Linked DNA regions of Homo sapiens: region 2 is linked to region 1. Evidence: fine-mapped expression QTL. A gene starts in region 1. The other region holds a variant in brackets. All regions are shown on one strand. Distances are between the middles of the regions.

Region 1 (5,366 bases):
GAAAATGAGCACAGCAGGGACTGGAAATAGCTCTGAGCCCTTCTCAGGGTGAGGGACTGGGCAGGCCAGCCAGAGACCAGGAGCAAAACCTCTAAGACAGAGAGGGAGCAAACAGCCTCCGGACAGAAGCCCCTGCTCACAGAACTCGGCCAATAGGAAAGAACTAGGACAAGTGGCTCATTCACCCTTCTGCCTCGAAGCTCTTCTTTCTACTTGGTTGGAGAAATTCAGAAGGGGCTCTTTGAATAACCCACCACCACCGTGGGTGCAACAAATAAGACATCCAGAATCCCAACGACTGCACAAATGCTTTGGGGGAATTCACAGCGCCTTCTCCACCCACATTAGCTATTGGAGCCTCGTATCCAGATTGGGGTCACTAAATCAGTGTCCATCTTCCCAGCACTGGGAGCCCCTAGAAGGCAGGCACCAGGTCCCATTGATCATCAGACCGCTATGCCCCAGCATAGTGCCTGGCACATAGTAGATGCTCAGTAAGTTGCAAGACAAGATCTGGCAGCAAGAGAGAGGTCCTGGTTAAAGGATGATTCCATCCAGGCTTGCCACGTATCGTGGAGAAGAACGTCATGAATTCCCTCTGGGCCTCAGTTTACCGCATCTGCAAATAGGGACAACTGTTCCTTACTCACACAGCTGCTGTGCAAATTACACAGGAAAATATATGTGGAAAGCAGAAAAGCCTCAGATGAACGTCAGTCATCCTTCAGGCTTCAGCTCAACCGTCTCCTTATGAGGGAGTCTTTCCTGCGGCCACGATCCCCCTCCCCGGGAACTGAACCTGCCTCTGTACTCCTTCTACTCCTTTGTTTGGTATTTTTCACATCATCGTGATCACCTGTTTCCAAATCTGATTCCCCCATGCTTGAGAGCTCCTTGATGGCTTGGGCATCAAATGTTTCTGTCCAGGTGGGCACACATACCTGGCTGCTGGGGCTCTCCCACCCCAGCGTCCCAGGTCCCAACTCTGATACGCACAGCACCCTAGGCAAGGTTCAGAGGTGCAGAGCCTAGGGGTTCTACCAAGGAAGCTAAATAGGTAGATGGAAAGGGACACTGTAGGCATAACCTGTCAACGAAGTCACACCTCTGAGACCTGCGCTGCCTCTGCAGGTGCAGGTGAGCTTGTTTGCCTGGCTGACTCTGCAGCGCAGGGCCTCCAGGGCACAGATTGCTGCTTCTTTCCTTACAAAAGCACCAGCAGTCAGATAAATAATACATGGCCTTCACCTCACCACAGGTATCAGGCATGCAAATACCTGCTTTGCCCCAAAATGCCCTGGAAAGGAGGGAGGAGTAAAACGTCTGGCCTTATACAACACCTCCAGAGGGGATATGTATTGGGAATCCATGCCCAACCCCCAGCATAACTGCCTTGCCTTGGCCTGGAGCCACCCAGCACTGGAGGTAAGTGGATCCAAGCGAGGTACCAAGGGTGTGCCCAGGAGGAAATGTACAATTCACGGGAAGGATACAGACACCCAAAACCAGTCTCCACGGTCCCTTTGGGGGCAAACATCTTTCGAGCCCCAGGTCCCAGTCGATCCCCTTCCAAACCTGCGGACCTGTGTGGCGGGCGTGTACACCCTCCACTCACGACGCAGCCCCGAAAGCCCCCCGCCGACCACCCTCCCAGGTCACTGCCACCCGCACAGGGCACGGACGCCTCCCCCACTCACTCGGCCGTGCCAGTCGCCAGCACACCCACCCGGGAGCACACAATCCCTCTTGCAAAGCGCCTTGGTCCATCCGCCTCCCTCTCCCGGGGCCGCCCCCCGGACAGGTCCGATTACACTCCAGGAGCTGCCCCCGCCACGTTGGCGTGGAAAGGGAGCGGGCACACCCACGGGCGACCTCGCGGGGCGGAGAGGAGGCACGGGTGGGGAGACGGATGCCCCCTCCCTCCGCGGCCGCACCGGCCTCCGTAGTGCCCTCCCCGCCCGGGAGCCGGCGGCCGAAGCCGGGCGTCCCTCGCGCGGGCCTCTCCGAAACAAGCAGCCCCCCGCGCTCGGGAGTCGCAGCTCCCCCTTGGGGCTCCCGGGCGAGGCCGGCCAGGCGGGATACCTCAGGAGCCCATGGCGGTGGCGGCGTCTGCGGACGATGCGCGGCAGCCGGACTCTGCGGGCGGGGCGGGCGGCGCCGCAGCCCCGGAGTCTCCGCCGCCGCCGGCGCGTCCCGGGCCCAGTGGAGTGCAGCCGCGGCGCGCATGCGCTCTGGGCTCGCCGCCGGGGAGGGCGGGGCGGCGGACGCGGCTGAGATCACTGCCTGGGCCTTAAAGGGGCCGCGCCCCGAACCCCAGCCCGCCGCCCCGAACCCCAGCCCGCCGCCCCGCGGGTTGGGGCGCGACCCGGGTTCTCTTGCCACTCACAAAACCAGCTACGACCGGCCCCCAACCGCGAGAGCTTTCTGGGCTGCGATCTCTGCCCCTGACCCTCGCTGGTGCTTCACTTCTTTTAACCCTAATTTCCTCCATTTGAGCCTGTTTTGAAGATGAAACGAAATACAATGGCTATTTGTTGAGTGAAGGATGCGTGTGGAATTGTGGAATGAACGTGGACCGAGTGTTGTGTGCAATTAGGCCAGATGAAATGGCAAAGCACTGAAAGAGGCCTTTTTTTCCCACTCCGCTTAGCAGCGATTCTTTCTTGCCCCGTCTGGCTCTAGGCTGCCGAACTAGCAAAAGTCTTCAGATAGGGTTCAAGCCGCCTAGTCCATTTCTGTTTGCCGGTCCAGACATCACCTAGGTTAACTGAACAAGATAAAATGCAATTAAGTTCTGGCATTGATGTGCTCAAGATCCCCAAATGTATTTATGTCTCCAGACTCCTCGCCTGAACTGTCTACCCAACACCTCTTCCTTGGAGCTCCAGCAGGCATCTCAAAGTCAGCGTGTCTGAGCTGAGCCAACCCCACTTCCACACACAAAAACCTGCTCCCTCTCAGCTTTGCCTCCATCAGCTGTTGACAATTCCATCCTTCCAGTCCCCAGGCCAGAACTCGGAGTCAGCTGTGAATGAATGCCCCCCTTCTGCCCGCTACCCAATAAGGCAGGCAGGAGATCCTGTTGGCTCTACCTGCAAAATAGATCTAGACTCAGATGTCTGCCACTCCTCCTCCAGTGCTACCACCCTGGTCCAGTATTTGCACAGGATTATTGCAGAGTTCTGCTAACCCCTCTCCCTTGTTCCAGCCTTGCCCTCTGATCCATTCTATCAATTCAGGGGTGAGGGAGATCCTTTTTTTTTTTTCTCTTTTTTCTTTTTGAGACAAAGTCTCGCTCTTTGTCTCAAAGTTGCCCAGGCTGGAGTGCAGTGGCGCGATCTCGGCTCACTGCAAGCTCCGCCTCCCGGGTTCACGCCATTCTCCTGCCTCAGCCTCCCGAGTAGCTGGGACTACAGGCGCCCGCCACCATGCCCAGCTAATTTTTTGTATTTTTAGTAGAGACGGGGTTTCACCGCGTTAGCCAGGATGGTCTTGATCTCCTGACCTTGTGATCCGCCTGCCTCGGCCTCCCAAAGTGCTGGGATTACAGGCGTGAGCCACCACGCCCAGCCAAGATTCTTTTAAAATCTGCCGGGCACGGTGGCTCACGCCTGTAATCCCAGCACTTTGTGAGGTCGGGTGGCTCATTTAAGGCCAGGAGTTACAGACCAGCCTGGCCAATATGGTGAAACCTTGTCTCTGCTAAAAATACAAAAATTAGCTGGGTGTGGTGGTACATGCCTGTAGTCCCAGCTACTCTGGAGGCATGAGAATTGCTTGAACCCGGGAGGCGGAGGTTGGGTTGTGGTGAGCCAAGATCGTGCCAATGCACACCAACCTGGGTGACAAAATGAGAATCTGTCTCAAAAAATAAAATAAAATCGAAGTCAAAACATGGTACTTTTTTGCTCAAAACCCTCCATTGGCTCACTGTTTCGCTCTAAGTAAAAGCCTTACAAGTCCTTACAAACACTTGATCTGACATTCTACTCTCCTGGGGATTCCTGATCTCATTCATCTCTTACCCTTTCCCTCCACACTGATCCCTTGCTGTTCCTAGAACAAGCTGAGCACACTCAGCCCCGAGCCCCCTGCACTAGCTGTTCCCTCTGCTGCGATCGCTGTTTCCCCAGATACCTGAATGGCTCCTCCATCACCTTCTTCAAGGGTTTGCTCGAATGTCCTCCACTTAGTGAGGCCTGCTGTGAGCACCCCTAGTAAAACTACCAGACCCCTCACATGCACTCTGTATTTCCCTTTACCGTGCCCTACTTTCCCTGTCACTTCATTTCTTTCTTTCTTTCTTTTTTTTTTTGAAGCGGAGTCTCGCTCTGTCACCCAGGCTGGAGTGCAATGGTGCTATCTCGGCTCACTGCAAGCTCCGCCTCCCGGGTTCATGCCATTCTCCTGCCTCAGCCTCAGAGTAGCTGGGACTACAGGCGCCCACCACCATGCCTGGCTAATTTTTTGTATTTTTAGTAGAGACGGGGTTTCACCGCGTTAGCCAGGATGGTCTCGATCTCCTGACTTCGTGATCCGCCTGCCTCAGCCTCCCAAAGTGCTGGGATTACAGGCGTGAGCCACCCTGTCACTTCATTTCTATCATATTATATAGTTTGCCTGTTTCCCTGTGTGTCTTCTTCTAGTAGAACACAAAATTTTTCGGTTTTGTTTTTTTGTTTTTGAGACAGTCTCTGTCACCCAGGCTGGAGTGCAGTGGCACAATCTCAGGTCACTGCAACATCCGCCACTCAGGCTCAAGTGATCCTCCCACCTCAGCCTCCTGGTTAGCTGGGATTATAGGCATGTGCCACCATACCAGGCTAATTTTTGTATTTTTTTTTTTTTTTTTTTTTTTTTGTAGAGATGGGGTTTCGCTATGTTGCCAGGGCTGGCCTCAAACTCCTGGGCTCAAAGCAATTGCCCGTCTAGACCACTCAAAGTGCTGAGATTACGGGTGTGAGCCACTGTGTGCCTGGCCAATAAATTCTGAAGAGAAAGATTTTCATCCTTTTTGGCTTTTTTGTTGTTGTTGTTGTTTGAGATGGAGTCTCACTCTGTCACCCAAGCTGGAATGCAGTGGTGCAATTTTGGCTCACTGCAGCCTCAACCTCCCAGGTTCAAGCGATACTCTTGCCTGTGCCTCCCAAGTATCCTTTTTGTTTTCTGATGTAATCCCAGTACTTAGTACAGGGTCTGGCATAGAGAACATGCCCCCGCAAAAGTAGGTATAACATGACCAGAGATCTGGTAATAGCAAAATCCTATAGAACGATTCCTCCCCAGCCCCAGGTAGGACATGCCTGGGTCTGTCCTAACAAGAGTAAGGCTTATCAATTGCATTGTAACTTGTTTATGACTTCCCA
Region 2 (5,366 bases), 50 kb before region 1:
GCACTGGACAAAGGTGGACAGGGGAGGGATGCAGGCGGGAAGAGCCCAGGTCAGACAGGGTATTGCACGGTGTGTGGGGGAGCCACGGCTTGCCGACCTCAGCCTGAGAGTCTCGCGGGGAGGAGGGGCTAGAAGGCTGCAGCCGCTGGTCCACACACAAGCATTGGGGCCTGGGTGCGGCTGGTCCCAGCATGCCCCCAGCACAGGACGGGCAGCAGGGGCATAAGCCTTGCTCCCAGTGTCCTCTGCCCTCGCCCGGGCAGTGCAGGCTGGGCCATGTATAAATATTCCTGAAGGCCCATGGGCGAGCCTGGCTGTCCCCCGTTCCTCTGGAAGTGACATGTGAGTGTTTCTGGTCCAATAAATAAAGGCGGCGTGAGCACTGTGCCAGCTGCCTCCTGGCCTGGTGGTGAGGCTGGAGGTGGGGCACAGCCTGACCGTGGCTATGGCGCCAGCACTTCCGCCACTGCAGCCCGCACCTAGAATTCATCATCAGAGCTGAGCAGGAGAGTCTTCTCGTTGTCGCGGGCGCCACTGAGGCTGTGGGAGCGGGAGAGGCCGTGGGCGCCACCACGCCAGGTGGGCCCAGGCTCCAGGGTGGACTGCTGCGTGTACTGCTGGTAGGCAGGTGAGAAGTTGTGGATGGCGTCCTGCACGATGTCGTGCGGGTTCATGGTCTCCTTGAGGCTGCTGGAGATGCTCTTCATGGGGGCACAGCGGCCTGCCGGGCAGGGAGCGGGAGGGGCAGGTGAGGAGGCTGGGACGGTGAGAGGGAGGTGGCTCAGCCCCTGCCCGTGATCCTGGGACAGACACCCCCCAACCCAAAGCTATGCCCTTCAACCATCCCTTCTGGGACAGAGAATGGGGTCCAGGATATGAGAAGGGGCAGGAAAAAATGGACTTCTTTGGCTGGGGAGCCCCAAGGGGAGGCTGGACTGTGAAGAGGAGCAGACATAAACCCCCACTGGGAGCTGGGCTGGCTGCAGGGAAGGGACCCAGGGTGGAGACTGGCAAGCTATGGGCAGTGAGCCTAGAATGCCCCAGAGAGGCCAGAGCAGGCTCAGCACTGACTGAAGTTGGGGCATGTGGGGCCAGAGGGCCTGGAAGCCAGGGGTGCCCGGTTCCACAGGTGCCAGGCGCGTCCCCCACCACCGGGGGAAGTGCTGTGCTCCCTCTACTCTGGAGATCAGGACCAGGCTGGCCTGCACCCCCAGGGGAGCAGATGCGACTCACTGGCTCCCTCTAAGAGGGCTTCCTCCTCATCTCTCTAATCAACTGTCCCCATCCTCAGGGGCTCAGAGCAGAAAGGTGGCCCAGGACACCTGGATGTAAGGGACGAGCCCACCCCTGGAACCCAGGATTCCTGACTCAGCTTGTGAACTCTTGGAAACATCGTGAAATGCCCCGATATCCCATGAACAGCACTGTGCCCCCAGAAGAAGGCGGGGCATATTCCAGAACGAGAAACGAGGACGGAAGCAGGCAAGCTCTACAGAGGGTGGCCCTTGACAGGTGCTCTGGGCGCTCCCACCCAGGGGGTGCCGGTGGGGAGGAGATGAGGACACGGAGAAGAGCTACAGAGAGACGCATGCCAGTGACAGTGACCAGAACTGACATGCAGGACAGACATGCAGACCAAGAGCGGGACCTACCGTAAGGGCCGTATGTTGGCACTGCCCGCGGCCAAACCCCGGGCAAAAGCAGGGCAAGGGGGGCGGGGAGAGAAGCCAAAGAAATAGAGAAGACAAGAGACAGCTGAGTGAACAATGTGTGCCCACCACCGAGGCCCACCAGCACGACACACCACACACCCTGTCCCCACCCCCCCAGGCCCCACAGGGCACCCAGGAAGCTCCAGGTGCCTCCTGGGGCCTGGCAGGGGGGATATCCACCTAGGGATGACTCCTCCCCTGGTGTTCACGCCAACAGGAAACATCCGTCTGGCGACTGAGTTCCGCCTCCACGTCTAGGTCAGGACGTCCCATCCCCACTTCTTCCCCGGCTAGCCTGGGGCCACATCCACACCTCACATTTTACAAACCTCACAACACTTCCCAGACCAGGACATGGAGGCTCAGAGGGAGGGGTTACAATCGCACAGCTGAGCCAGCTCTGCACCTAAGCCTATCCTGAGGGCTGAGGGTCTGGGCCTGGGTTAGAGGGTAGCAGGGGGCTCAGGACCAGTGGGGAGGCAGAAGAGGGCAAGCAGCTTCCCCGGCCGGGCGTGGGTATGTCTAGAGGGACAGCTCAGGCCAGGCAGCAGAGCCCCTCTGCTGAGCCCCAGTGGTGCAGGAATGGTTCTCTGCCATGGGCCCCCTTGCTCCTTGGGGTGGCCCCAGGCCCCAGGCCCAAGGATGATGTTCCCACGGGCACAGGGTATACCACACCAGGTCCAAGGGACACTGCCCTCAATGCTGGGTGTGTGTTTGCTAGATCCTTCCAACTGGGCCACCAGGTGGCAACCCCTGGCCTTTGTGCACCTGCTCTTTGGGCACAGAGTAGGTCTTCCCCCACCAGGGAAGGCACAGAGGAAGGGGGGCGGGAAGTGGGCCGCGGAGCCCCGCTGCAGGCAGACATTTCTACAGTCCACACCACCCACCACGGAGCCTGTGTGGGGCCTGCAGGTAGGCCCTGGGGAAGTGGGTTTCTTGCCTCCAGCCACTCGGGCAGACAGCTGGCAGCAGCCAGGCTCCTGGGTGGATGTGTCAGAGAAGGAGGCTCCCCTCTCCCCAGTCCCTCCTGCCCCTTTACTGGCTCAATCAGTCTCAGGCATTCCCAGCCTCCTCTTCCCCATCCTCCAAGGACAACCCCCTTCTGCCCAGTGGCCAGAGGCAGCCCTTCCAGCCCAGTGGAGCGTCCCGGGCAGCAGCACTTTCACATCACCCTGGGAGTGCTTAAAGCACAGAACTCTCACAGCACACCCAGCCTGCCAGCCCGGACCCATTACAGCGGGATCTCCGAGGGTGGGGCTGGGTATCAGCACTTCCAAAAGCTCTCCAGGGCATTTTCCAGTACAACTGGGGCTACTTACCACTGTTCTAGCAAGGAGGAAGATTCGCA[G/A]GTGTAAAAGAAAGCTGTTAAAACCTATTACCATCCGAGTCTGTTTCTCAGAAGTATTCTTTTTTTTCTTTCTTTCTTTTTTTTGAGACGGAGTCTTGCTCTGTCACCCAGGCTGGAGTGCAATGGCACAATCTCGCTCACTGCAAGCTCCGCCTCCTGGATTCACACCATTCTCCTGCCTCAGCCTCCCGAGTAGCTCGGACTACAAGCACCCGCCACCACGCCCGGCTAATTTTTTGTATTTTTAGTAGAGACAGGGTTTCACCGTGTTAGCCAGGATGGTCTCGATCTCCTGACCTTGTGATCCACCCGCCTCGGCCTCCCAAAGTGCTGGGATTATAGGCGTGAGCCACCGTGCCCGGCCAGAAGTATCCTTTTTTTAAAAAATAGCATATGAGATGAGGGAATTACAGGACAAAATGGTAACCACAGTGTTGGGAGTTAGAAGCCCGAGGGAATTTGTCTATTCATTACAGTCTCTGTCTGTATCAGCCCTGGACCGCCACACTTGGACCTGCTGCAAGGGACAGGTGGCCTGAGCTTCCAGGACCGAATCGGTCGTGCTGGTGGCACCTGCTCTTCCCCGACCTCTGTGGCCCCATTCCTGCATATAGAGTGGGGATCCCATGTCCTGACCCAGCCGCACCTGTAGGATGCTGGGAGGTGGGAGGGTCCTGGGATGTTTGGGGCTCCCTGCTTCTCCCAGCGGGGGTCGCCTAGGACCCTGGCTCATACCTTGTGCGTCCAGCCTCTTGTCAGCATAGACCTTGTAGGTGAAGGCGTGCCGCAGGGCCAGGGCTGCAAAGAACATCTCCACACAGATGATGAAGTCCTGGTAGCCGGCAGCCACGGTGCCCTCGCCCACCGACACGCGGGCCGAGTGGATTTTGGGGATGGCCCCACACTTCTCCAGGATGGCCAGGAGCATGCCTGGATGGGGAGGCACGGGTGTCTGGACCCAGAATGATTCCTTTCCTGCTCCCCCTTCTTCCACAATGCCCCATTCAGCTGCCCACATGCCCCAGTGAGGATGTGAGCAGGGCCACAGCTGCTCCTGCAGGGCAGGGGTAGCGACACAAGGCCACAGCCTCCGGAAACCCCACTCTCCCAGCTCTTTGCCACCGAAACTGAGATGCCAGCAATTACGCAGGGTCTCCTGGGCCCTCTCATCCATGTAGCGGCCCCACCAAAGCTCTCCCTAGCCCCTGGGAAAGGCCCTCGAGGGCTCAGATTTCACCCCCAGCAAGTGCCCAGTGGGCTGAGGCCCCTCTGAACAGGCCCTACAGGCACCAGGGACCATAAGCAGAAGGGGCAGCAGGAAGCGCAGAGGACAGGGTGGCATGGGCAGCCTCCAGGTGCTGGGAGGGGGCTCACCTTGCCAGAAGGAAAGAAAGATGACGGACTTGACCATGAAGAACTTGAGGACGGGGCTGTAGGGGCTGAGCAGCTCCCGGGTGGCGAAGTAGAAGAGGAAGAGGGCGTAGAGGGCCAGGCTGACGGAGATGTTGTAGATGATGGTCACGTAGAGGTAGCCACTGGTGACGCTGCGGGACGGGGAGCATTTTCTGGCTGGGACAGACCCTTGGAGGGAAGGGGCTCTCCTCGACTGCACCACACACAGTCCCCATGGCTCTCAGCCCCACACCTCCAGCAGAGCTCAACGAGCCACTGAAGGGGTCAGAATGGGTGATCAAAGCGACAGACAGGGGTGGGGGTACATGGGGTGCGCCTGCAGGCCAGACCAGCTCTACTGCCTCTGCGTGGCTCGTGGACTTGTCTAAGCCCTGGTGCCCACACTCCTAACGTTGGACACCAGTGTGGAAGCCAGGGCCGGGCCCGAGGCCATAGCCTGACACTCAGATAACAGGCGTCAAAATAGGTGACGCTGCTCAGCTCTGCTGCCTTTTCACTCGGTCGGCTGCATCCCCCTGACCTCCTTTTGCCCACCTGCCCTGGCAGGGCTGTTACACAGTTCACAGACAGTGTGTGCCGAGAGCTTGAAAGCACAGGGCTAGACACATGGTCACTTTTTTTTTTTTTTTTTTTAGATATGGAGTTTTGTTCTTGTCACCCAGGCTAGAGTGCAATGGCGTGATCTTGGCTCACCGCAACCTCTGCCTCCTGGGTTCAAGCGATTCTCCTGCCTCAGCCTCCCGAGTAGCTGGGATTATAGGCACCCGTCACCACGCCCGGTTAATTTTTTGTATTTTTAGTAGTGATGGGGTTTCACCATGTTGGCCAGGCTGGTCTTGAACTCCTGACCTCAGGTGATCTACCCGCGTTGGCCTCCCAAAGTGCTAGGATTA

The links.
Region 2: its variant is fine-mapped to the expression of TMEM184B in whole blood (TOPMed, PIP above 0.99). The same link has a PIP of 0.9 or more in gastroesophageal junction, subcutaneous fat, thyroid and tibial nerve.

What each region holds. Positions count from the first base shown.
Region 1 is chr22:38,270,802-38,276,167 of GRCh38, forward strand. TMEM184B (transmembrane protein 184B) reads right to left here and starts at 2,209. Exons shown (of 9, transcript NM_012264.5): 1 at 2,083-2,209. RefSeq lists an enhancer at 960-1,669 and a silencer at 1,732-2,361.
Region 2 is chr22:38,220,990-38,226,355 of GRCh38, forward strand. It overlaps TMEM184B (transmembrane protein 184B), which reads right to left. Exons shown (of 9, transcript NM_012264.5): 7 at 4,435-4,604; 8 at 3,796-3,990; 9 at 1-721. The coding sequence ends at 480. It overlaps SNORA92 (small nucleolar RNA, H/ACA box 92), which reads right to left and starts at 3,731; the gene lies at 3,490-3,731. RefSeq lists enhancers at 1,754-2,254, 3,670-4,170. The variant G/A (reference allele first, on the strand shown) is at 3,061.